7 linked regions of the Homo sapiens genome follow. The protein of the gene in region 2 purifies or fractionates together with the protein of the main gene of each other region. This does not show direct contact. Each region holds a gene or a part of one and is shown on either strand. Other genes may lie near its edges.

Region 1 (3,500 bases), on a different chromosome or scaffold from region 2:
ATATAGGCTATTCTTTATATTATATGAAAATAAAATATCTGACTTCCAGGATGTTTTAGACTGAAGCTATAGGATATAAAGAAAACTTACTGTTTCTAATTTAATGTTTAAATATTAAAGATTTCATTTAGTCAGGAAAAATTTCCTCAATTTTAATAATAAAGTAGTTAATATTATTAAAGATATTAAAAATATCTTTAAAACTATTTTTCCCTCCAAAGAAATGTAATAAAGTTATGCTCTCATAGCGAAGTTCTACATAAAAGGGATTCTTAAAATCAACTGAAATTATATAAAAACATAAATATGGGGAATAAGGAAAAAAAGATGGCAAGTAGTAGGTAAAGAGTTGATGGGGGATGGTAAAGTTATTGTTTAATTGATAAATTAAAAACTGCTTTAAATAAAAATCTTTTACATATATTGATATCAGTTCCATCAAGCCTTAAAACAAACAGAAACTGAGTGCCCACTTTTTAGAGTCAGTCAGTTGAATAACGTATAACAACTATAAGAAAGTATTATAATTAAAAAAATAGCTTTATTGAGTGATAAGGTTCACACTTTTAAAGGTTAACTTCAGTGGAATAATGAAGTTTTAAAGGGTGCTAAGTTAAAACTGATAGCCAGCTTTCATTATTAGTGCTTCCCAGTAACGCAAAAGGGTCACTTTACTCAAACAAAACATGTTAGTATTCAGTTCAGTGTTCTGTGTCTATATGAAAAAATCCCATTTTTTAAGTGGTCAACTTTACTGTTTTTTTCTTTTCTTTTCTTTTAATCTTGGCATTTACCAATTTGAAGAAAACTTTGAAAAATGATTTTCAGCCTTAATTTTTTTAACATATTTGATAGCCAGTGTTAATCAGGAATGGGCAGATTTCATCAATAATCCCACATACTATTTTAGCACTTATATTTTAGAATTTTAGACCTGTGTTTTCTTTCGTGTTGAAACCAAAATATAGTTGGAGTTTCATAAGTGTAGGTACTTTAGGAAATATTACTTCTCTGAGCCTGTGTTTCCTCATCTGTTTAATGAAGAGATTGAATTAAATGATCCCCAAGATCTTTTCCAATTCTGGAATTCTGTCATCTAATGAAATGTGTGTAATTAGAATACATGCCTTTTATTTTATTTGCCTGATTAAAAGTTAGGACTTAAGTAACCAGGAGAGAGAAAATAAATAATGAACTTAAATAATGTTCATTTTTGGGATGAATGAACATTGGAATGTCCTTTTTGGGAAAATTGGATATCCATAATAACTCCAATTTCTGACCTTCTGATGGACCAAAAGAAACTCGGGGCCTGGCATTCACTATGCACCTTTCCCACAAAGTCCTTGAGTTCCTCATCTGTGTGCTTCAGAGGTAAAAAACACTGAACTGGGAGTCAGTATACCTGGGTTCTAATTATAGAGCTGTCATCTACTGGTGACTTTGAAGATCTGCTCATTAGGCAGCTGGACTCTAGATTAGATGGTCTCTAAACTCCTTTCTAGCTCATACTGTTAGGCAGTTGTTACTCTTGTGAGTCCCCTCATGCTTAATTGTCAGCTACCTCTGCGACTCTATCCTTGAGCATTGTCATTGCTAGCTGTAGCCCAAATTTCATGATTGCCACCAACAATGCTGATATTCAGCTGACAGCAACAATGCAGCCTCAAGAACTGTGGTCATGCTGCAAATGTTCATTCTCCTAATTTCTTCATTCGTATGAAATATGTGCAACTAGGTCTGTTGTAAAGAAAAAAGCTTTTCTGAGTTTGCTAATATTTAGAGTCAATTTGAAGTAGACAGAGCCCCACTTTCTGTGTCCTATACAAATGCTTGTGTAGTACTGACTTGAAGAAACTATATGGGGAGAGCTGTGTTACTACCTGTATAGTTGAAATAGTATTATGCCCCTGGAAGAGAACACACGGACAGTTTCCCTCGCTCTTTCCTGGTGAATATCCAGATTCTTAGAAAGATATTTTACCTTTGCAAAAGATTTCCAAAAGCAGCTGTTATGTTCTTAGCTGCCAGAGTGACTGCTGTCTGCCTTCTAAGTGGAAAGGTGTATTTAATGTCACTATAACCTTTAAGCCCACATTCATTAGCTCAGGTAGCACTGTACTTACACTTGCAGTAGTTTACATTTGGGATGATTATACTGTAGACAAGTAGCAAGCAGTTCCTTGAACATACTAGGTACCCAATAAATATTTATTGAGTCAATGAGTTTTCATCTATTTAAACCTGTGGCCATTTTAAAGGGATTAAAATAGTACCTTGTAATTTTAGCGTAAAGTCTAATCATAAATAATTGGACCATGTGGTGTTTGGAATTCTTTTTTATCTTTTCAACCATTAGTCCATTTCTACAACTAAGCAAAGATCAATTTTAAGAAAAATCGTAAAATCATAATTTGCCCTTTACTAAAACCATACATATATTCATTTCATACCATAACTATATGTAACAGTTCATCAATATGACCAATTTTGGAAATTAAAATGAGCCACTCTTGATGTGTGGAGAAATAAATAACTTTTGTTACACTGAACGGAAAATAAATATGACCTATTCATTCAACATCAGTTCATTAAAATATTAGTGATATGCCCCAAGCTTAGTCAGCAGTAAGCTAGGTTGAAATATTATAGTGTAATAAATTATTTAATAAATTTATTTCTTAAGATTGAAATCTTAAAATACCTCAGCAATTATTCTTCCAAAAGATGAAGTAGAGAAACACATGAAATAAACTGATGATACAGACTTTATTGTAATGTTAAAACTAACAGTAATAGCTAAGAAACTTAAGTTTAAAAAATGGATTAGTTGACATTGTCTTATTCTAAGATCAAATCCTTTGGAATGATGGAACATTTCATATCACTCCAACTTTTTTGGTTTTTGTTTTTAACGCCTGAACTTTGTAGATATGGCATTCGCCCTGAAAATGTGATTATATATGGCCAAAGTATAGGGACAGTACCGTCTGTGGATCTTGCTGCTCGATATGAGAGTGCTGCTGTTATTCTTCATTCTCCTCTGACTTCGGGAATGCGAGTTGCCTTTCCTGATACCAAGAAGACCTACTGTTTTGATGCATTCCCAAAGTAAGTAGCAATATTCAAAATAGTTAAATTCCAAGAAACTTGGGAATTTTTTCATCATTTAAAGTATTCATGACACAGTTCACTCAACCATAAACTTCATTTTATATATATTAGCACATAGAAATTATGAAAAATTAATTTGTAAAGAGGGTATTAGCAGGTGACCAGTCAGAAGGCTGAAATGTTTGAGGAGTAGTAATCCAGATGAAAATTGCTGAGGGCCTTACACCTCAGGTGGTGGCACTAGTATTGGAGACAAGGGAATTAATTTGAAACATAAATTTGACAGAACTGAGTATCAGACTGGGTGTAGGATGCTAAAGAGAAAAACTTGAACATGACTACCATGTTTCTGCCCTGAGGTGCTAATGGATAGGGCCATCCAGTGA
Region 2 (4,001 bases):
CCCCTCCCTCTCTTTTTTCTTTTTTTCTTTCTCTTTTTCAAGGTCTCCCTCTGTCACCCAGGCTGGAGTGCAGTGGTGCAATCAGCTCACTGCAGCCTCAACCTCCAGGGCTCAAGTGATCCTCCCACCTCAACCTCCTGAATAGCTGGGACTACAGGCGCACACCACCACACCCGGCTAATTTTTGTATTTTTTGGTAGAGACGGTTTTGCCATGTTGCCCAGGCTGGTCTCAAACTCCTGGGCTCAAGTGATCCTCTCTCCTTGGCCTCCCAAAGTGCTCCTTGGCCTCCCAAAGTGCTGGGATTACAGGCATGAGTCACTGCGCCCAGCCCCTCTCCTCTTACTGATTCCACAGGGCTGTCTCAGGATGCTGGTGGCACGGGGCAGAGAGGGCATGGTGACTGTTCATGGACACAGCAGCCCCTCGAGGAGGAGGCTGGAGCCATCCTCATATGGAGGAGAAGCAGGCATGGTGGTGGCCCTAGCCCTAGGGAAGGGTGGGCCGCACCCTTCCTTCAGGAGAGCGAGTGGCCAGCTGCTGTGGCCCTCACATGGAGGGTGAGGGCTGGCCCGAGCACCTGGCCATCAATGTCCTCAAGCAAAGGGGAGGGCAACTACCTAATAATATTACCTTTTAGCTATTTCTCTAGGCAGGTTCCCCTACCTGAAAAGATTGCCCCCGGCTTCAGAGTGTTTCAAGATGCCTGAAGTTCTAACACCAGAGATGGTTTCCTGCTGCTTCCAGGAACAGGGTCTGTTCTTAGTCCAATGTGGAGTTCCTCATGGGGACCCCATTCCCCAGGAATCCAGGTTCCACAGTACTCTGACTTGGTCTGGCTGGTCTCGGCTGGCACTTTCCCTAGGACTGCTAAAACCACGGTGAGGGCGGAGAGCTGAGGGCCGAAGAAGGCGGGGTGAGTGATGCTTGGGAGAGGGAGACAGGCTTGGCTGAAGCCCTGGGGAAGGGCTGAGGGCTGTGAAGGGGGCTGTGGAGGAGAGGTAAAAGGAGGGAGGAACACAGCCCTTGACAGGGCCTGTGAGGCAGGGGAGAACAGGGAGCAGGTACCGGTGGGACGGTGGCAGGGGAGGGGGGCCCATGACTTTGAGGGTGTCGTGTTGCATGTGCTGGGGGTGAGGACCCGGAGACTGGAGGAACAGGGCTCCAGGGCAGACGCATGGGCAAGCAGAGAGGACAGCCCATGGTAGATGGGAGGGGCACACAGGTGTGCTGTTTTCAGGTTGGCAGGAGAGGAGGAAGGTGTGTGCGGGGAGGCCCTGGAGACTGGAAGAGGAGAGGGGGCCCAGTGAGTGAGGGGCCCTTGTTAGAACCTGGGGGTGGGAAGGGGCCAAGGTGGGTGCCCTCCACCCCAGGCTGTCCCTCAGGCCTGTGCTGTGCCCCACAGTGCAGGCATCACCTGGCCCCACGAGAGAGCAGCTCATAGGTACGACTGACCACTCTGCCTGGCATGGTGGGGGCCTGCCTGTGCTGGCTCAAACCAGTTTTAGCCCCATGTTGCAGGTTAGGGAGTCAAGGCTGAGTGTCTGCTAACTTGTCTTAGGTCACTTGACCAGGGGACATTGGCCCTGGAGCTGGAAGTGAGACCGGGGAAACGGTCTCACTCCCTGGAAGACCGCCAGGGTGGGGAGTGTGACTCAGTCTCAGAGTTTGCCATGGAGTTGTCTCCCAGGCTCAGCACCCCCTCCTGGCCCTGGGGCCACTCCCTCATTTTAGGGGCCCATGTATGAAATGAGAATGTGCAGCCCCTTGCTCAAAAAGGAAGAGTTTCAGGACAGTGACGGCAGAGTGTTACTGGGCTCAGGGCCCTGAGTGACGGCAGGGGTGGCATATCTCATGGCACCAGGTGGGCCTGTGGTGCCTCCTGCCTCCAGCCCGGGGGCCTCAGCCTGGGCACTGCCCTCCACTTCCTGCCCGGGCCGAAGGGCGTGCCCCTCGCTCTCTCTGGGACTGAGACTCCATTTTAAACAGCTTTCTGGTTGGTTTCAGGTTTGCTGAGGTTTCTTCTCCCTTTCTGTCCCCCGTTTGAGGAGTTCTGATACTGATTGTTGCAGTTTGGTCTGAGATGGGCCCCGCTTCACTCTCTGTTGCCCTTTAGAAACACAAACTTCAGTCTAGACTCGCTGGTTCCTCACGACTCACTGGTCAGACGGCCACCGAGCCGGTGTCCGTAAGAGGAAAGGGCGTGGCATGGGCCGGGGCCTGGGCAGTGTTGGGTCCCGTGGCTGTGGGTGAGTCGAGCATCTAGGACAGGTCATAGGCCTCTGTGGAGGTGGCAGGTGGGCATGTGTGGCCTCGGGGAGGGCCTGTGGTGGCAGCGCCATGGCCAGGTGGTGGCAGTTTCCTTTGCATTAGCGCCACTCCATCCCTGGCCCGAGCCCTCTCCCAGGCATCTGGCTCCTCTATGGGTCAAGGCTGCCTAATGGTTAGGGGCAGCGGTGCTGTCATTGCAGCCTGGACTGCCGGCAAGCCACTTCCCCTCTGCAAGCCCCCATCAGAGGGACGAAACACCGCTTTGTGGGCTGCTGTGAATTCAGACTGTGGTCAGCCTTCGATGCACAGGTCAGACCATCACCAAAGAGATGGGACGAGACAGGCTGCTGCCTGTCTCCCTGGGCAGGGCTCCCCGCTGAGTGTTTCCTCTGCTTAGCCCTGGGCTCCCAGTCCACCCCACCCAGCCTGCCCCTTACCTCTAGCTGCTGGTCCGGGAGGAAGGGACAGGGGTCTGCGGGGCAGCAGGTGATCTCCGCCCGTGGGTGTCGGTGGTGGCAGGGGGCTCCTTGCCGCTGTGGGTGGAACGCTGGCTATTTAAGGAGAGGAAGGGAGACCACAGCCCCTCTGGCCCTGAAAGGCTGCTTCATTCCTGAGGGGTCCCTTGTTGTGTCGGGCTGCTCCTCTGGCTGCTGCTGCTGCTGCCACCGGAGCGTGAATATTCTAGTGTGTCCCTAGCCCATGCCCCCCGCCCCCAGCTTGGCCACATAGTCTGAGTGTGTGACTGTCTCAGAGACTCAGAGCAGGCGGGGGCTGGGTGGGGGGCTTGGGCTGGAGCTGAGGGACACAACAGGACGTTTCAGAAGGGGATGATTTCCTACTGATGGGGGGCAGGGAGGGGCCGGCTGTCATGGCAACAGGCGGCGCTCCCAGGCCTGCGCCCGCAGACGGCGGAGGGGGCCTGTGAACGGAGGGTGGGAGGCCGAGGAGTCTTGCTCACGGAGTGAGAGGCGACTCTTTGAGGACACTTGCTGTAGGGTCCTTGTGTCCTGCCCTGTATAATGAGGCCCCATTTGGGCACACAGAATAAATCATGGCCTTTATCTGGAGCGAGGAACAGCTGCAGGAGCCTCATAATGGGGCGCTGTCCTGTCCGTGAGGATGCGGCTCAGCTCAGAGGCCGGGTGCTCGCCGGTGCAGCTCCCCTTCTGCACGGAAGCCCATGAATCTGACCGCTGGCCTGGGGCTCCTCCCTGGGGTGGCTCCGGGCTGGGGTGCCTTTGAATGCTGCCGGCGGCCGCCTCTGAGACTGAGTGAACAAAGTTCATTTCTCTCTGTCTTTCTGAAAATGATACATCCAGCAACATGGGAAACCAAATCACCCTTCCTGGTTTCAAAAGACTTTACATTTTGTTGTTTAAACATTGAAAACTGTATGTATGTGGCTAGCATTTAAGGGGCAGTGTCTTAAATTTGTCTCTTCACATCACCCTGTGCAGCTGGGATTATTGCCCCATTTTACAGACAAGGAAACTGAGGCTCAGGCAAATGAAGAAACTCACCCATCAACAAACAGTAGGAAGCAACAGAGCCAGGATTTGAACCCAAGCACATGTCACTCCAGAACTTAGGCTCCGTGTGTGTGTGTGTTTTGTTTTTCTGCTGCATTTTGAATTTAGAATTCTTAGATTTGATCCTAATTCAACCTGAAAAAGAATTCTGAAGGCCACCTTTAGATCTGATGCTGTGATCTGGTCTGTTGAGAAGCTGTT
Region 3 (2,244 bases), on a different chromosome or scaffold from region 2:
TATTGTTTTACAGATTACTGCAAAGCTATCAATTTCTTCTGAACCTAAGAAATGACACACTATATCTATTCCCAGTAATACAGAAAGCTGTAAGTAGAATTATCAGGGCCCAGGCTATAGAACTTGAACTATACACTCCCGCTTAACACAATGGGCTTTTTTTTTTCCTAGTCTCAAGTCAACATCAAAGCAGCCTAAAAAAATAATTTGACCAACTATCCTGCTGCATTACAACTATTATTCATCTGCTACGTTTTAATATGCAATAGCAGCATGCAACAATACCACCAGCTTTTGGCTAATGACTTAGCATGAGAATATAGTCAGTTCTTCAGATTGCTGTTCCTCAGAGATACTTCCTAGGAAACTTTTTTAAAAATCACCATAGCAAAGAGTTGTAGAGAAACTACCTAAGGGTTAACACTTTCACTGCAGTATGAGTTAGTGAAGATTGTGGTCATGTGGTCATTGGTTTTAACAGAAAATAAGACAATCTAGAATAAAAGCCATAGAAAGAAATTTTTCATGAGTTTGACAGAAAGAGTCTTTAGAAAAAGTTTGAAAAAAATGAGAAAAATACATTAATTTTGTTAAATTTTTTTATATTAAAAAGTGGCATGAACTTTTTATGTAGAACAAAAATCTTGGGAAGGCAAAATTGGATAAAACCATTAAAACAGAAATAGAGTGCTTCAAATGAATCCCATCACCTTGTGATGTCCCTTATTAACAGTCTCTAAACCAATACCAGATACCAGAACAGTCCATCCTAAAGAACGAGCAGCAGTCCAGGGCCTCCACGCTACTTCATGCAATAACTGTTTAAATTAAGCCAGCAGGACCTGTTTCCTTTGTATAAGCTACAACTTCTGAAGCATTACAGTTCCTCTAGCACGGTGCTCAATCACAGCACTTGGAGCACCTCTCTGCATAAAGGCAAACAAAACATTGCCTAAGGACCCTGCAATGCCACCCTTGGAGGCTTACAAAACAGTAGTTAAAAGTTTCGGAGTGTGCACCACATTGCCAGCAATGGGATGTGTCACAATAGCAGATGTCAAAAGAGTTAAGCTAATATTTCTCTTTAAAGTACATCTGAAATAGAAAAATCTTTAATATACACCATTTGTAAACAAAATTGCACTTGATTTTGCTTTTTTAAATGATCTGAATCATACTGTAACAGTTTCTCTTTTTTTTTTTTTCTTTTGATCATTGATAGAACTATGGCTCCTTAACTCAGAAGGGCCCTTTTTTCTCAAAACAACCTCTGCAAGATGTAACCTTGACTTCCCAGGAAAATGAAAGGTAGTTAACAATTTCCCCCATCACCTATGTAACTCCCTAAATAAATAAAAATTACAGGCAGTTGCTCCTGGAGATTACATATTATGGTGTTGATGACAATCTTTTAGAAGACGTTAAACTTTTTAGTTTGTCAGATTTAAAAAATGAAACATTACAGAAAGTTCAGGAACAACACACTTAAGTTGCATGAACATCCATGTCAGAGTCTGGGAGGAAAGGGGGCAGCAGTGTTGTAAATAAGAAGCTCGTAGATTTTTCTCATCTTATGAACTTGTTTTCAGTAAGATGTTCTCTTTGTTCTGACACCTCTCGCCAACTCCAATGCCCAAAGATCAAGGAACAGATCAGGATGTCATTGCTTCCTTTAATCCCATGGAGCCGTACAGAAGACTGACACAGATGCTGATCTCTTCCCTGATGGTAGCCATCTTTAACTGCAAATCTTCCCATTCCTTACTCCATTTTGGACCTTTCAAAGTGTGTGATCATTCGTTCCTAGGGAAAAAAAAAAAGGTTGAAGTATATTAGGTTAAAATGATCTATATTCCAAATATCTTCTATACAGACTATCCAAGCAAACATCTTCCACGAGTACTTTATGTTAATTAAATGTTTAGAGAAATGGTTCCTAAACATTTGTGAAGATTTTGAACATACAGATGTCCAGACCTCACCCAAGAACAACTAAATCAAAAGCTCTAGGCTTCTGGACAGAAAATCAGCACTCAGAAGGAAATGTATAGAGTCAGCTAAGATCTTATGTAAACAAATATTTACATAAGATTAGGCTTTAATAAAAATGTGTAACTCCTCTAATTCAGGAATTTCACTTGAAGACCCAGTGAAGGATGAGGGCAAAGACGTGCACCTAGTTAGCACTTTGCACTTTAGAATGGTTAGGAGGGTTGATTTGTTATGTGTTTTTTACTACACTTT
Region 4 (3,500 bases), on a different chromosome or scaffold from region 2:
TATAAAACTTCCAATGATGGCCTGCTGAAAGCAACAGAAACTGTATTTTGTTTTTCTCCTCTAGCAAAGGAGCTATGTCAGATATACCTTATTAAAAGAGTTCTGGTGACCACAGCAAACATTTTAGAATAAATTTTCTCACCTCTAATTTAGCAAAAGTTTTAATTAAAAAGCAAAAATGAGGCAGAAAAACAGATAAATTCAACTTTTAGACAGAATGAACTTTTGCACAATCCAACTCAAGAACATCCTTCCTGACACAAAGAGCTGGAAAAAATAAGGAAGTTTCACAATACAGTAGTAATTTTTTATACTGTCCCTACACTTAATACTGAATTTTTACTTATATTATGATTATTATAATTTTTATTTATTTCCAAAAATGGAAGATAAAGGAAAAATTCAACCCAAATATTTTAAATGTAGCAGTAAGTTCAGGGTAAAATTATTGCCCTAAATCATTCTCCAAACTTGGAAACCCATCACCTATCATACACAACATGCATTCTTAACTTTAGCAATTATGTGAACTTACAGGCTAATATAACAACCAAAAAAGGTACAAAAGTTCAGTTTCTTTCAAAACTATTTGGCATACAGATGATAATTTGAGCATATGGTTCCAGAAAGCATCCCCAGGAAATGCGAGACTGAGCATCCTAATGGGCTCCACACCCAAATATCTAAGCACCTACTTGGTATCTCCATTTCAATAAGGCATCTTAATCTCATGTGTTCTATCTAAACCTGCTCTTCTTCTATATTCCCAATTCTGTCAAAGATATCTCATCCACCCACTTATTCTAAATGCTTCTTTCACCATCCAGACCCTATAACCTAAGTCCCTCGAACCTTCTCCTCTGACACTGGCCCCTTATCATTTCTAGCCTAAGTCACTAAAATAACATTCTGATCTCTCTTCTTCTGATCTAGTCACCTTCCAATAATCTGCCTAAGGTGCATAATGTATAACCACTGCCCAAACTAACCTTTACAAAATGTCCATCTGGTTATACCACACAGGGGCTTAAAAATCTTCTGACTTCACCCTTTACCTCTACAGTGAGGCTATACTTCCTGATACTCCCCAACACATAAAACATTTCTGCCTTGGGCCATTGTGAACTCTGTTACCCAAAAGCTTTGTACCTTTTTTCAGGTGTATTCTGTTCCATCTACCTGGAACACCCTTTTATCCTTTCTCTCTGCAAATAACTTCTACTAAATCCTTCAGAAAAGAACATAAGCAATAGCCTGCCCAAATTCTTTGAACTACTCTCCATTCCACTTAATCTGATTTAGAAGTTTCTTTACTCATGCATTCAGCACATTTATGAGCACCAACCACATGCTGGAAATAAAAGGTGTCAGTGGCAAAAACACACACAAGGAAAAGTGTCTGACTAAACTAGCAGTATTATGTAAGCCAGTAAATCAATGTATATAGTAGAGTGTAATAGAGGAATGCAGAGAATCCTGAATGAGGTACCATTTTCAGTTACTTCTTCAATAAATATACAGTAAACGCCTACCATGTGCCAGGTACAGAGCAAGCTACTAGGTGTAAATAAGTAAGATTCAGTCACTGCCTCCACAGCAGTTACAATCTAATGGGATGACAAGAAAACAGACAATTACAACATGTAATTGTACCAACAGGCTGCCACAGCAAGCCCTAATAAATGCTATCTTACCTAGATTTAGGAGGCTCAGGCAGAGTGAGAATCAGGAAAACTTACTTAGAGCGACATATAAACTGAGATCTAAATAATGGCAATTTTAATTAGTAGAGGGTATAGGGAAGCAGAGGATATATGTTCTTAGCAGAGGATATATTTTATACAGAGCAGTAGTTCACTGCATGATTGAAACCCAAATACCAGAGAGTAGAGTCTAAATAGTTTAGAAACAAAAACAGAGACCAGATCAGATCATAAAGGGCTGCATAAGCCATGCTAAAGAATTTAGGAGTTTGAAATTTATCCTGAAGACAGACAAACGCAACTAGAAATTTGCCTTTTCTAAGCCAATAAAGTGGCTGCAGGGCCAAGAACGAACAGCTGCAGTAATCCAGAGAGGGAGAGACTCATGGTTGCTTGAACTAAGGCAATGGTAGTGGGGATGAGGAAAGGCAGATGGCTTAGAAAGATATTTAGAAGATCAAAATGACAAGACTTCATGACTGATTAGATGTGAGAGGTGAAGGGGAGAACAGTCAAGGACAAAACTGTGTAGATGAGGTTATTTACTGAGAGGGAGAACAGAAAGAAGAAAGCTGAGTTTTATTTGGGATGTGTTAATGAGTAATGACTATGGAACTAAAAAAAATGCACAATACAGGTGGTTGTAAGGGCAATACATCACAGATAGTCTGAAGTGAAGAATGTTTTGAGATATAGAGAATGGTACAACTCTCAAGGAAGAGCAACTGGCAGAACTATTATTGCTTCTCAAGGATATTGGTGTGCCAAGCGAAGTCAGATAGGAGACGTGAATAATTTAAGAGTTGGAGGAGATACACAGTCAGCGCTGCAATGAACCATGATCACACCACTGCACTCCAGCCTGGGTGACAGAGCAAGACTGTCCCAAAAATAAATTAACAATAATAATAATAATAATACAAGTCTGTGTTTAACCACCCTTGTATCCAAAGAACTCAGCACATAGGAGGTACTAAAACGTTTGTTGAACTAAAGAATGCCAGAAAAATTTAAAAATAAGACATACTCCTATTATACCCTAGTTAACTACCATGTTAAAAGATCCAGTCTAGGAAAACAAGTCTCCAGGAAAATCTAGATACTAAGAATATTCATCTTTCTAAAGCACAAAAATTTTATAGGACTATGAGCATATTTAAAAAGAATTGGTTAGGGCCAATTTTAAGCTACAAAATAAATTGTTACTAAAAATGACATCACAAATTCTAATTAAGAAAAAAAAACAGCTGATTTCCCTATTGTTTCAAGTAATTTTCTTTTTCATTTTTTGAAACACAGTATGCCCTTCGCCCAGTCTGAACAAGTGGCACAATCTCAGCTCACTGCACTGGTTTCAAGCGATTCTCCTGCCTTAGCCTCCTGAGTACCTGGGACTACAGGCGTGTACCACCATGCCCGGCTTTTGTATTTTTAGTAAAGACAGAGTTTCACCATGCTGGCCAGGCTGGTCTCAAACTCCCGACCTCAAGTAATCCACCCACCTCAGCCTCCCAAAGTGATGATTACAAGCATGAGCCACCGTGCCCGGCCAGTAATTTTCAATAGAAAGAAATTCTAATACACTAACAGGAAAACCTAGAGTGAATGAAGTGTACTACAATAGGATTTTACAACTCTGAAACAAAAGAGCTATTAATGGACCCATTTCTCCCACTCTAATCCCTCCTCATTTTCTTTTTCTTTTCTTTTTTTTTTTTTTTTTTTGAGACAGGGTCTTGGTCTGTCACCCAAGCTGGAGTGCAGTAGCACCATCATAGCTCACTGCAGCCTCCAAGT
Region 5 (3,500 bases), on a different chromosome or scaffold from region 2:
ACTCTAATATCTTTAGCTTCCTTCTCTGTCATTAAACCGTCTTGCTCCCTGCTCCTAAACCCAAATACACTGCTCCCTATTCCAATCACTTCTAATTGTTACTACTGCTGCTAGAGGAGAGGGCCTCAATTACCAGTTTACAGGCTAGATCTGGCCTGAAGACATAGATTAGATAGATGACAGATAGAGAGATGATAGATGAGACAGATTTTTTTAAAGATGGGTCTTGCTATGTTGCCCAGGCTGCAGTGCAGTGGTTATTCACAGACACTATTATAACGCATTGCAGCCTCGAACTCCTGGCCTCAAATGATCTTCCCATCTCAGCCTGTCAAGTGGCAGGAACTACAGATGCGTGCCACTGTGCTCAGCTAAAGACATGTTTTTATATGAGCCTAAGAAGTGTTTGTAAAATTAGGAAATAAAAAAGGAATTTCTAGTTTCTCTTGAATATGCCTAAGATCTAGCAATCTTGCCGGGCATGGTGGCTCCCACCTGTAATCCAAGCACTTTGGGAGGCCGAGGCAGGCAGATCACAAGGTCAGGGGATTGAGACCATCCTGGCTAACATGGTGCAACCCTGTCTCTACTAAAAATACAAAAAATTAGCAGGGCATGGTGGTGGGCGCCTGTAGTCCCAGCTACTCGGGAGGCTGAGGCAGGAGAATGGTGTGAACCCTGGAGGTGGAGCTTGCAGTGAGCAGAGATCGCACCACTGCATTCCAGCCTGGGCAACAAAGTGAGACTCTGTCTCAACAACAACAAAAAAAGAAGATCTAGCAATCTTGGGATCCTATTGTCACAAAACTACAACTTACTAGAGTTGACGCTCCTCACCTTTAGAGGGGCATGGATTTCTCAAATTATCTCTGTCCCCTCCAACTCAGATGACTCATTTACATTATCTATCTACCCAATATATTCCATCTCCATTTATCTGTAACAATCAAAACTGTTAATTACAGATAGTATTTCATTTATTTTTTATTTATTTATATTTTTGGAGATGCAGTCTTGCTCTGTCACCCAGGCTGGAGTGCAGTGGTGTGATCTCGGCTTACTGCAGCCTCCACCTCCCCAGTTCAAGTGATTCTAGTGCCTTAGCCTCCCTGAGTAGCTGGGATCACAGGTATGCGCCACCACACCCGGCTAATTTTTTGTATTTTTAGTAGAGCTGGGGTTTCACCATGTTGCCCAGAGTGGTCTTGAACTTCTGAGCTCAAGCAATCTGCCCACCTCAGCCTCCCAAAGTGCTAGGATTACAGGTGTGAGCCGCTGCACCTGGCCAGAACATATTTTAGAATTAAAAAAAGAAAACAATTACGCTTCCTTTTAATACTCAGATTTTCTAAACATTGCCTCAGTGTTTAGCTCCTCTTTAATCACCTAAGCAATTATATTTCCATCATATAATTCTTCCTGTGCTATATAACTTTTTCAAAACCACTGGTTTTTCTTATCCTATTAATAAGTTCCAGAAAGAACAATGTTATAAATGTGGTATGTTCAGTCATAAAAAGGAGAATGAAACTATAGGAATTCTAACTTTCAACTAAAATGTTTGAACCAGAAACAGCAGTCCACTACAGATATAAACAGTTGAATTAAAAAGTAAGCTAGTTATAGAATCTACTGCAGAACAAAGTTCAAATTCCACAGGAAAAAAAAAAAAAGGGGCAATTCAAAATAACAAGTGACAGCCAGGCACAGTGGCTCACACTTGTAATCCCAGCACTTTGGGAAGCCGAGGTGAGCAGATCACTTGAGGTCAGGAGTTCAAGACCAGCCTGGCCAACATGGCGAAACCCCATCTCTACCAAAAATACAAAAATTAGCCAGGCATGGTGGCACACGCTTATAATCCCAGCTACTAGGGAGGCTGAGGCAGCAGAATAGCTTGAGCCCTGGAGGGGGAAGTTGCAGTGAGCTGAGATCATACCACTGCACTCTACCCTGGGCGACAGAGCGAGACTCCATCTCAGAATAATAATAATAATAATAATAATAATAATAATAATAATAATAATAACAATTCACTGCCTAGAAATACTCTGTGAATGCATACTGTCTGTTATCAGTTTGTTGCTTTTTTCTTTTTTGAGATGGAGTCTTTCTCTGTCGCCCAGGCTGGAGTGCAGTGGCGCGATCTCAGCTCACTGCAACCTCCGCCTCCCAGGTTGAAGCGATTCCCCTGCCTCAGCCTCCTGAGTAGCTGAGACTACAGGTGCATGCCATCACACCGGGCTAATTTTTGTATTTTTAGAAGAGACAAGGTTTCACCATGTTGGCCAGGATGGTCTTGATCTCCTGACCTTGTGATCCTCCTGCCTTGGCCTCCCAAAGTGTTGGGATTACAGGCGTGAGCCAACGCGCCCAGCCAGTTTGTTGCTTTTTATGTGTCTGCTTTTCATTTTGTCCTGAGACTGCTGTTTATATCACCACAGAGGATTAAGGAGATGATGTTACTTAAGATGAGAAAGCCTCAGTGAAATCAAGGTTTAAGAGGCCATGGAAACTAAATTGCTAATTAGCTAAATTGGAACTTTCTCTTAATGTAAGAGTGATTGGTAAAACATCATTCCAGAGAATAATGTTATGAGTTCAAGAGTTATTATATTTATACTCCCTTAGCCACAACTGTTCCCTAATGGATCAAAATTATGCCACTGGATTTTAATTTACACTGACTTATTCTTTTTTTTTTTTTGAGATGGAGCCTTGCTCTGCCGCCTAGACTGGAATGCAATGGTGCGATCTCGGTTCACTGCAACCTCTGCTTCCTGGGTTCAAGCGATTCTCCCCACCCAGCCTCCTGAGTAGCTGGGATTACAAGTGAATGCCACCACTTCCACCTAATTTTTGTATTTTTAATAGAGAAGGGGTTTTGCCATGTTGGCCAGGTTGGTCTCAAACTCCTGATCTCAGGTGATCTGTCCACCTCAGCCTCCCAAAGTGCTGGGATTACAGGCGTGAGCCACTGCACCAGCCTTGACTTCTTTATTTTAATTTTATTTTTAATTAATTAATTTATTTTGGCTGGGCGCAGTGGCTTACGCCTGTAATCCCAACACTTTGGGAGGCCGAGGTGGGCGGATCACAAGATCAGGAGATCGAGACCATCCTGGCCAACACAGTGAAACCTTGTCTGTACTAAAAATACAAAAATTAGCTGGGTGTGGTGGCACATGCCTGTAATCCCACTACTCAGGAGGCTGAGGCAGGAGAATGGCTTGAACTAGAGAAGTGGAAATCGCAGTGAGCTGAGGTCCTGCCACTGCACTCCAGTCTAGTGTCAGAGGGAGACTCCATATAAAAAATACATATATATAATTTTAAGACAGGGTTGCACTCTGTTGACCAGGCTGGGGTGCAATGATTGGATCATAGCTCACTGAAGCCACAATCTCCCGGGCTGAAGCAATCCTCCTGCCTCAGCCTCCTGAGTAGCTAGGGTTACAGGCCTTCGCAAAACACCCAGCTATTTTTTTTTTTTTTTTAAT
Region 6 (3,500 bases), on a different chromosome or scaffold from region 2:
ATGTGACTATCCAGGGAAGGGCTAGGCACCACAGTACTTTATTTACTTGAGATGTATGAGGCATTTTTTCCCACATTTCGTAAAGTTACATTTAGCCTCCAACAAAGCAAAATCTCAGTAATCTCATGGTAGCTAATCCCTGGTGAACTTTGTTTCTTCCCTTGCAGTCTATCTACATCACCACCCAAACATAAATTGATAAGCATAACTCATTTTGTCTTTGCAGAAAGTATATTTTGCAGGAAGATGGTATTCCCACAAATGTATTGTCCTTGAAGACCGTTAGAGACTTATCTTCTCCACTTCACTATTGAGACCTGGGCCAGGCCCGCTCTGGTCTGTTGGTAATCTATGTGGCCATTAAGCAGGATGGGAAAGCAAACTGAAAAGGCCTGATTTAGTCCTCTCGGTTCTATAGATTGTGAGTGGGTAGGTGTTGGATGGTGAAGATACAGAGATCATTTTGTGGGTGGTGTTATAACCCTTCTAAATACCCACCTGTCTGTCTTCATTCTTTCCCCAAATATTTATTGAGCATACAGCTGAAGGGAGATGGACAGTTAACAGGAAAATACATAGTATGTCAGACATTTAATCCTTTTTTGTTTGAAAATCATTGTATTGGCATGTGAGTAGATTTCTGAGTATTGCCATTCAAAATTAATTCAGCTACCTTTTAACATATGGCCAATTATAGATGGATTTTCTGTAAACTATACTCATGAAATTACAGCTTATTGTGTATTCTTAAAACTTTTTTTTTTGTCAAAAAGTATAACTTATGAAACAGCATGTAGATTAGGGGAAATTTTACTTCATTAAAACAATCCATTCTCAAAGACTTCTCAAGGAACTTTTATTTTCACAGAAAGAAAAATAAACCTTTAAAGGGATGCAGAGTTAATGTAAAACGTTTTTCAAATTTTCTTATGTCAGACTTCATTTTGAAGTAAAGAATGGTTAAAAAAGAAAGAATCCCCCCCCCCGCCCCACACTGTTACACTGTTACAACTGATAAGAAGCCCACAGGCCCAGGAACAGCTCCAGGTTGCCCTCTTTTGGTACCTGCCCTACTACAGCTCTCTGCAGAGAGAGGGAGTCTAGGCTGCCCTAGCTTAGCCTGATCCATTCCTGCTCTCGAGAATCCTGACTTAAAAATAGTCTGGCCATCTGCTGGCAGATGAGACAACAGCTGAGCTATTTTTAGTTTCAAAGAATTTAGGATTGTTGTGGGATTGGGCTTGAAGGTAGCATTGTTTATCTGCTAGGGAGGGTGCAGTTGGGACTTATTCCAGTAAGGCCTCTAAGTTTCAGGAGTTTCTTTTATGTTAGGGTTGTGACTAGTTCAGCTTATGCTTTCTGACATCGAATGAAGAGTATCTATGAAGATACTCTGCAAATGTTAGGATGAAAGAGTTCAAGGTTGGAAACTGTCACTGATACACAATAAGAGTGAAAAAGTTGAAGAGCTGACCAGAAGAAGGTTTTAAAGGGAAGGGAGGCATATACTGGCAGTGATAAGGGTGGGTTCCCAGGAGGTATATGGGAAAATAATGGAGACAAAATTGTTAGGGAAGTAATTTTTGCATCAGACAGGGTATGAATTTATATTGTTCATCATATTATAAAGTGATCCTGCTGACTTAGTTTTCTTATATAAGAGTCTATTACCTGTAATTATAGTTTCATCCAGAGATACAATATTGAGACTCAAACTTTTCAGAACTTGCTTCCTTCTGCCCCTTTAATCCCACCCTTATTTTTGTTGGTGGAGTTATAAAAAAGATACGTCAGTGGAGGGGAAATTACTTGAATGCTTTGGGCCCTGGTTTTATGCTACTTTTGGTAACTATTAATTTTCATCACTCTTCACCATTTATGAAAAAATGATTTATCCCCAAACAATATCCTGCCATCAGTGAACACCTTAATTATAATTTAAATCCATTAACAAATCTCCGTTTAAGCCTTCTTTGATATCTAAAGTAAAAGGTGTTTTCAGTAAGCCAGGCTACCTGAATTTTTGAGATGGGTAGAAGAAAAGAGTATAATTAATGACATAACCGAAAGATTGATCCTATTTGTATTTGTTCTTTTCTTTCACATTTCAGATTTGTTTTTAGGACACTTGCTCTAGAATAGTGTTGACTGAAATAAATGTTGCAGAGTACAAGTTCTTAGAGAAGCTCTTTGAAGAAAATAAGTTTGGGTTGAAAAAATAAGTTTGGATTATAGTGTGTAATCTGTTTCCATTTGGGAAATTTATAATGCACATGAACATAGTTAAGATTCTGAAAAGTCCTCCAAGAAAGACACCTGCTCAATTTTGTTTAATGAAGTTCTTCCTGAATTTATGTGATCCTTTTTCATTGTTTGCTAACTCAGTTAACTCCCCTAGGATATGTTGTTCCTTGGAACTTACTTTGGGACACTGGGGAAAGAAAGACAAGTACAATAACCCTAACTACTGGTGAGACCATCTTCTAGAAGAGGTTTGGGGAAATCAGTGCACAAACCTGTGTTTCTCTAAACACAGGTTTGGGGAAAGTAGTAGATGTGTTAATAGTGTGGGAAGGAGAAGAAAGTCCGAAATAAGGAGCAGTAGAAATATCGAGATCAGAGGACTGTTTGCTGACTAGCTTTCTTTCCCACCCCATCTAGGGGCAGGTAACTCATTTGTGTCTCTTGGTAAGGTTTAACTTAGAGAGAAAATTGTGAATGGGAAATAATTTGGGGAAATATTTGTCATAATATTCCTCACATAATGGAGGAAGGAAGATATTTGAAAAGGAAAAATACATGAGTAAGTTATTGTTGCCATTCCGAACTAGGTATATATTTCAATCAGATATTTGTTGAACTCCTCATATGTTCCAGATACTACTTCATTGCTGGGTATACAGCAGTGAACCAAACATGCTTTCATAGAACACACATTCTAGTGGGGTGAGGGTGATAGTAACAACCTTATATCATCAGAAGAAAGAGTTCAGAAGGTTAAAGGGAAAAGGGTGGGAGTACTGATTTAGTTAGAGTTGTCAGGAAAGTCCTATCTGTGAGATGACATTTGAGCAAAGAAGTGACATAAGTGGGGGATTTAGTCTTTCAGATACTTGGATGAAATAGAAACAGGAAATAGCAAGATGGATGTGTGCTTGGTGTGTTTCAGGATGCAAGGAGGCTTGTGTGGCTGGGAGAGAGACAGAGAGAAAGATGGGAGGGGGTGGGCAGATTTGGGATTTTAGTGACAGCATGTTTATGTTTTTAAAGGCTCACTGTGGCCAGAGACCATGGGGACTTAGGCTAAGTTGGTGGTGGTGGAAAGGGTGATAATTGTGTGCATTTGGAATATATTTTGGAATCCACAGGATTTGCTGATGGGTTGGTTAACAGAGGGGATGGCATCCAGTCTTGTAGCCAGAGCTTCAGGGTAGAGGAAGATGGCATTCACCTCAATGGGGGACACTAGGATAGAAAAAGCCTTTGGGAAATAGATTTTT
Region 7 (3,500 bases), on a different chromosome or scaffold from region 2:
CTTATATAACTTCAGTTGGTTTTTGACAAAGGTGCCAGAACAATCCAATAGGGAAATGAAAGTATTTTCAATAAATAATGCTGGAAAAATTAGATATCTGTAAGAAAAACAAACCTCAACCTCTACTTCATACTATACACAAACATTAATTCCAAATGAATGATAAATCATAAAAACTAAATGACAAAACTTCAAAAGAAAACATATGTGAATACCTTTGCCACTTGGAAAGTTAAAAAAAAAAAAATTACTGAAGTCACACAACATAATAGCCATGAAAGAAAACAACTGATAAATTAGAATTCACCAAAATTTAAAATATCTGCTCATCCAAAGACAGCATTAAGAGAATCAAAAGGCAAACCACTCACTGCCAGAAAATATTCAGAAAGCATCTACTTGACAAAGGATTGGAATCCAGGATACATAAAGAACTCCCACAACTCAATAACAAACAAACAACCTAATTCAAAGTAGACAAGATTTTGAAAAGATATTTCAGAAAGGAAAATATACAAATGATCAATAAAAAATTAGAAAGTATTCAACATATTAGTCATCAAGGAAATGGAAATTAAAACCACAATAACACTATCAGACAATCACTAAAAGAACTGACCACATCAAATATTGATGATGTGGAGTAACCAGAACTCTCACATACTGATGGTCAGAGGGTAAAATGATACAATCTCTTTGGGGAAAAGTCTGTAGTTTTTTCTAAAACTAAACCTACACCTATCTTATGATTTAGCAATTCCACTCCTACATATTTACCCAAGAAAAATGAAAGCAGATGTCCACAAAGACTTGCAGAAGAACGTTTATAGTGACTTTTTTCACAACAGACAAAAAGTGGTAACAGCCAAAGTGTCCATAAACGGGAGAATGGCTTAAACTAGTTGTGGTATAATAATACAATGAAATAAAACTCAAGCAATAAAAAAAATAAGTTATTGATATATATATATATAACACAGATTAGTTTCAAAAATACCATTCTAAGAAAAATCCTTACACCAAAGAGCACAGTGTATGATTTCATTTACATGAAATTCTAGAACAGGCAAAAGTAATGTATCTTCGGGGGGGAATTAGAATAATGGTTACTCGGTGGCAGGGAGAGGCAGAGATTACTGGGAAGTGGTGATGATAATGTTCTGTATCTTGACAGTGGTTCAGGTTTCATAGGCATATGCATCTGTCAAAATTCACCAAATGGTCCACCTAAGATTTGTGTGCTTTAGCACATAAATTTTTCCTCAGAACAGCAAAAAAAAATAAACAAATACTGAATTTTAGTTAATTATATAAAATCCTGAAGTATACTGATATCTGAAACTTACTTAGAAACGCATTTAAAAAAACTGCCCTGGATGGATTCATGGTTGGATAGAGAGGTAGGCAGGTGAATACGTATGTGATAAAGTAAATTAGGTAAAATGTTAACTATAAAATCTAGCTGTTAAGTATGAGTGTTATGTAATTTCATCACTTTTTCTATATGTTTGAATATTTTCATTATAGGCTGAGAGCAGGAAGAAGTACTCAGGAACTTGTAGAAGCAGTTTTTTCTATACTCTGCAGTGTTAAGCAAAACTGAAATGACAAAATATAATAGCTTTTTCTAATAAAGGTGCATTGATTTATCAGAATTTTGGTTTAAAAAAAATTCTTTGTTATTCTCTTATTTCAAGAAAAGCCTATACAATGAAATAACCTTTCTCAAGGGTAGAGATGACAGGCTACCAAGCCACATACAGACTCAACAAACTAATGTGTTTTTGTGATAAACATGTCATGACAAATTTCTAACCTATATTTCATGTTCTATCTCTAATTAAGAAAGTTATTTCTTTACTCACCAAGTCACTAGCTTGATCTATTGTTAAAACATTGTTGTTTACTCGATTACCAACTTCAATATGTACATCAGCTAATGATGATATAAGTTGTTTACATTCATTCTGCATTCGTGTGAATGGAACGGCAATTTCGTCATAATATAAATGTTCTGAAAGGATATCAAGTAAACGCGGCTGCACAGCTAAGGTAACAGCTTTACACTCCTAAAATACAACAGAAAACAAATAGGGTAACTGTATGAACATTAACTTTATAGATACAGAAATCGTCATTTGTAGACTACCAAGTTCTAAATTCTTACTTGTACTGAATCTATATTCTGTTACTTCTCCAAACAACAGTTAATTGCACAGAAAAAAAGGTATTACATCCAAATTATTGTAAAATTTTAACATGAATGACTACAGAACATGCACACAGAACTATTACAACTTCATTTTCTACCTATCCAAAGTTTACACGTGTATATATATCACAGATTTTAAAGTGTATTATGGTAAAAAAAAAAAAAATCAGAAAAGAAATCTATCAAGCACTAATTAAAAATGTTATTTAAAAACTCATTATTAGATAACAGTTGAACCCTAAGCTTCACATGCCATACTGTAAAAGTGGATATAAATTTTAAAAGCTACTTATCTATCCCCAAATTTAACTAACCCTTCCCACTCTCTCTGGTTGTTGCCTGCCCCAAACCAACAGGAAATGGCCTCAGTGGTGAGCCATGAGGGGTTCTGTGGCATCTCAGTTATCAGCCTGGGCTTCACAGAGTAAGTCCATGAAGCTCTGTGAGTGTCCAGAAACCTAACTGTCAACACTTGCTGCTAAGTCTGAGAGGCACAAAAACATAGCATCACTGCCTCTCCAGCACACCAACTCCTGCCTAAAAACAGATGAGCTTTGCTTCTTTCCAGAGGCCAAGCAGGGGTGTCAGCTGCAATGGAGCATGGCTCAATTACTTTTAGATACAGCTTTGACAAACTGCTAACAGGCAGTAACAAGTAACTCTCACAGCAAGTGCAGACAGTTAAATTTCCAGAATTCCAGTCAATGGAATAAACAAAGCCAGTAGAAAGTTTCTTTGATTTACAGAAGTATGTCTTATACAAAATCATACATCTCCCTAGAAGTTAACGGTTAAAGAGGCTGGAAGGGAATGGTTTATTTGGAAACATGAAGATTTTGGTTTAAATACAGAGATGTTATTCTTCCTGTGACCAAAAATTCTGCCTTTGCTACTACCCACACAGATGGATGTCTAATACTCAAAGCCTCATCCTTTGTAGTTTTCAGTGATACCTGAGTGACATATAGAGGAATGGATGACCAATAGTTTCTGGACTACTTTCACATATACGCGGTTTTTAATAGGGATATTTCTTAACAGACTGTACAGTCAACAGCAAATATTAAGTATGAGCATAACTAGTAGTTGGAAGTATGAGTAGGGGTTCTAAGACAAAAGTCCAGAGTTAAAAGTAAATGGGAGAGAAATAATCTTCAATATAATTTGGACACTTTTCTGTAACTCTTGGATTTTTATACATCGAAAATTTTCACTTTTCTGTTGTAAATAATCCTAACAGCTAATGGAAATTGGTTTACTTAATTTGTCTTTATTACTTTTGGGGCAA

Evidence for each region.
Region 1: the proteins of GPR17 (region 2) and ABHD17B purify together in Homo sapiens (co-immunoprecipitation; 2 studies listed by BioGRID and IntAct, with this or other methods). This does not show direct contact.
Region 3: the proteins of GPR17 (region 2) and TMEM87A purify together in Homo sapiens (co-immunoprecipitation; 2 studies listed by BioGRID and IntAct, with this or other methods). This does not show direct contact.
Region 4: the proteins of GPR17 (region 2) and TBC1D15 purify together in Homo sapiens (co-immunoprecipitation; 2 studies listed by BioGRID and IntAct, with this or other methods). This does not show direct contact.
Region 5: the proteins of GPR17 (region 2) and SLC33A1 purify together in Homo sapiens (co-immunoprecipitation; 2 studies listed by BioGRID and IntAct, with this or other methods). This does not show direct contact.
Region 6: the proteins of GPR17 (region 2) and ARFGEF1 purify together in Homo sapiens (co-immunoprecipitation; 2 studies listed by BioGRID and IntAct, with this or other methods). This does not show direct contact.
Region 7: the proteins of GPR17 (region 2) and BTAF1 purify together in Homo sapiens (co-immunoprecipitation; 2 studies listed by BioGRID and IntAct, with this or other methods). This does not show direct contact.

Annotation. Positions count from the first base shown.
Region 1 is NC_000009.12:71,869,694-71,873,193, reverse strand, and holds part of ABHD17B (alpha/beta hydrolase domain-containing protein 17B), read left to right. Parts: intron 1-2,931; coding exon 2,932-3,111; intron 3,112-3,500. UniProt on the Homo sapiens protein: Hydrolyzes fatty acids from S-acylated cysteine residues in proteins. Has depalmitoylating activity towards DLG4/PSD95. Has depalmitoylating activity towards GAP43. Has depalmitoylating activity towards MAP6. Has depalmitoylating activity towards NRAS.
Region 2 is NC_000002.12:127,644,952-127,648,952, reverse strand, and holds the start of GPR17 (uracil nucleotide/cysteinyl leukotriene receptor), read right to left. Parts: upstream 2,801-4,001; 5' UTR 2,709-2,800; intron 1,307-2,708; coding exon of another isoform or gene 1,209-1,306; exon of another isoform or gene 1,114-1,208; intron 917-1,113; exon of another isoform or gene 358-916; intron 1-357. UniProt on the Homo sapiens protein: Dual specificity receptor for uracil nucleotides and cysteinyl leukotrienes (CysLTs). Signals through G(i) and inhibition of adenylyl cyclase. May mediate brain damage by nucleotides and CysLTs following ischemia.
Region 3 is NC_000015.10:42,209,947-42,212,190, forward strand, and holds the end of TMEM87A (transmembrane protein 87A isoform 1 precursor), read right to left. Parts: intron 1,804-2,244; coding exon 1,762-1,803; 3' UTR 501-1,761; downstream 1-500. UniProt on the Homo sapiens protein: Potential monoatomic ion channel gated by mechanical force, implicated in normal touch sensitivity through the generation of mechanically activated currents.
Region 4 is NC_000012.12:71,842,759-71,846,258, reverse strand, and holds part of TBC1D15 (TBC1 domain family member 15), read right to left. Parts: intron 1-3,500. UniProt on the Homo sapiens protein: Acts as a GTPase activating protein for RAB7A. Does not act on RAB4, RAB5 or RAB6.
Region 5 is NC_000003.12:155,847,928-155,851,427, forward strand, and holds part of SLC33A1 (acetyl-coenzyme A transporter 1), read right to left. Parts: intron 1-3,500. UniProt on the Homo sapiens protein: Acetyl-CoA transporter that mediates active acetyl-CoA import through the endoplasmic reticulum (ER) membrane into the ER lumen where specific ER-based acetyl-CoA:lysine acetyltransferases are responsible for the acetylation of ER-based protein substrates, such as BACE1.
Region 6 is NC_000008.11:67,337,282-67,340,781, reverse strand, and holds part of ARFGEF1 (brefeldin A-inhibited guanine nucleotide-exchange protein 1), read left to right. Parts: intron 1-3,500. UniProt on the Homo sapiens protein: Promotes guanine-nucleotide exchange on ARF1 and ARF3. Promotes the activation of ARF1/ARF3 through replacement of GDP with GTP. Involved in vesicular trafficking.
Region 7 is NC_000010.11:91,982,770-91,986,269, reverse strand, and holds part of BTAF1 (TATA-binding protein-associated factor 172), read right to left. Parts: intron 2,070-3,500; coding exon 1,866-2,069; intron 1-1,865. UniProt on the Homo sapiens protein: Regulates transcription in association with TATA binding protein (TBP). Removes TBP from the TATA box in an ATP-dependent manner.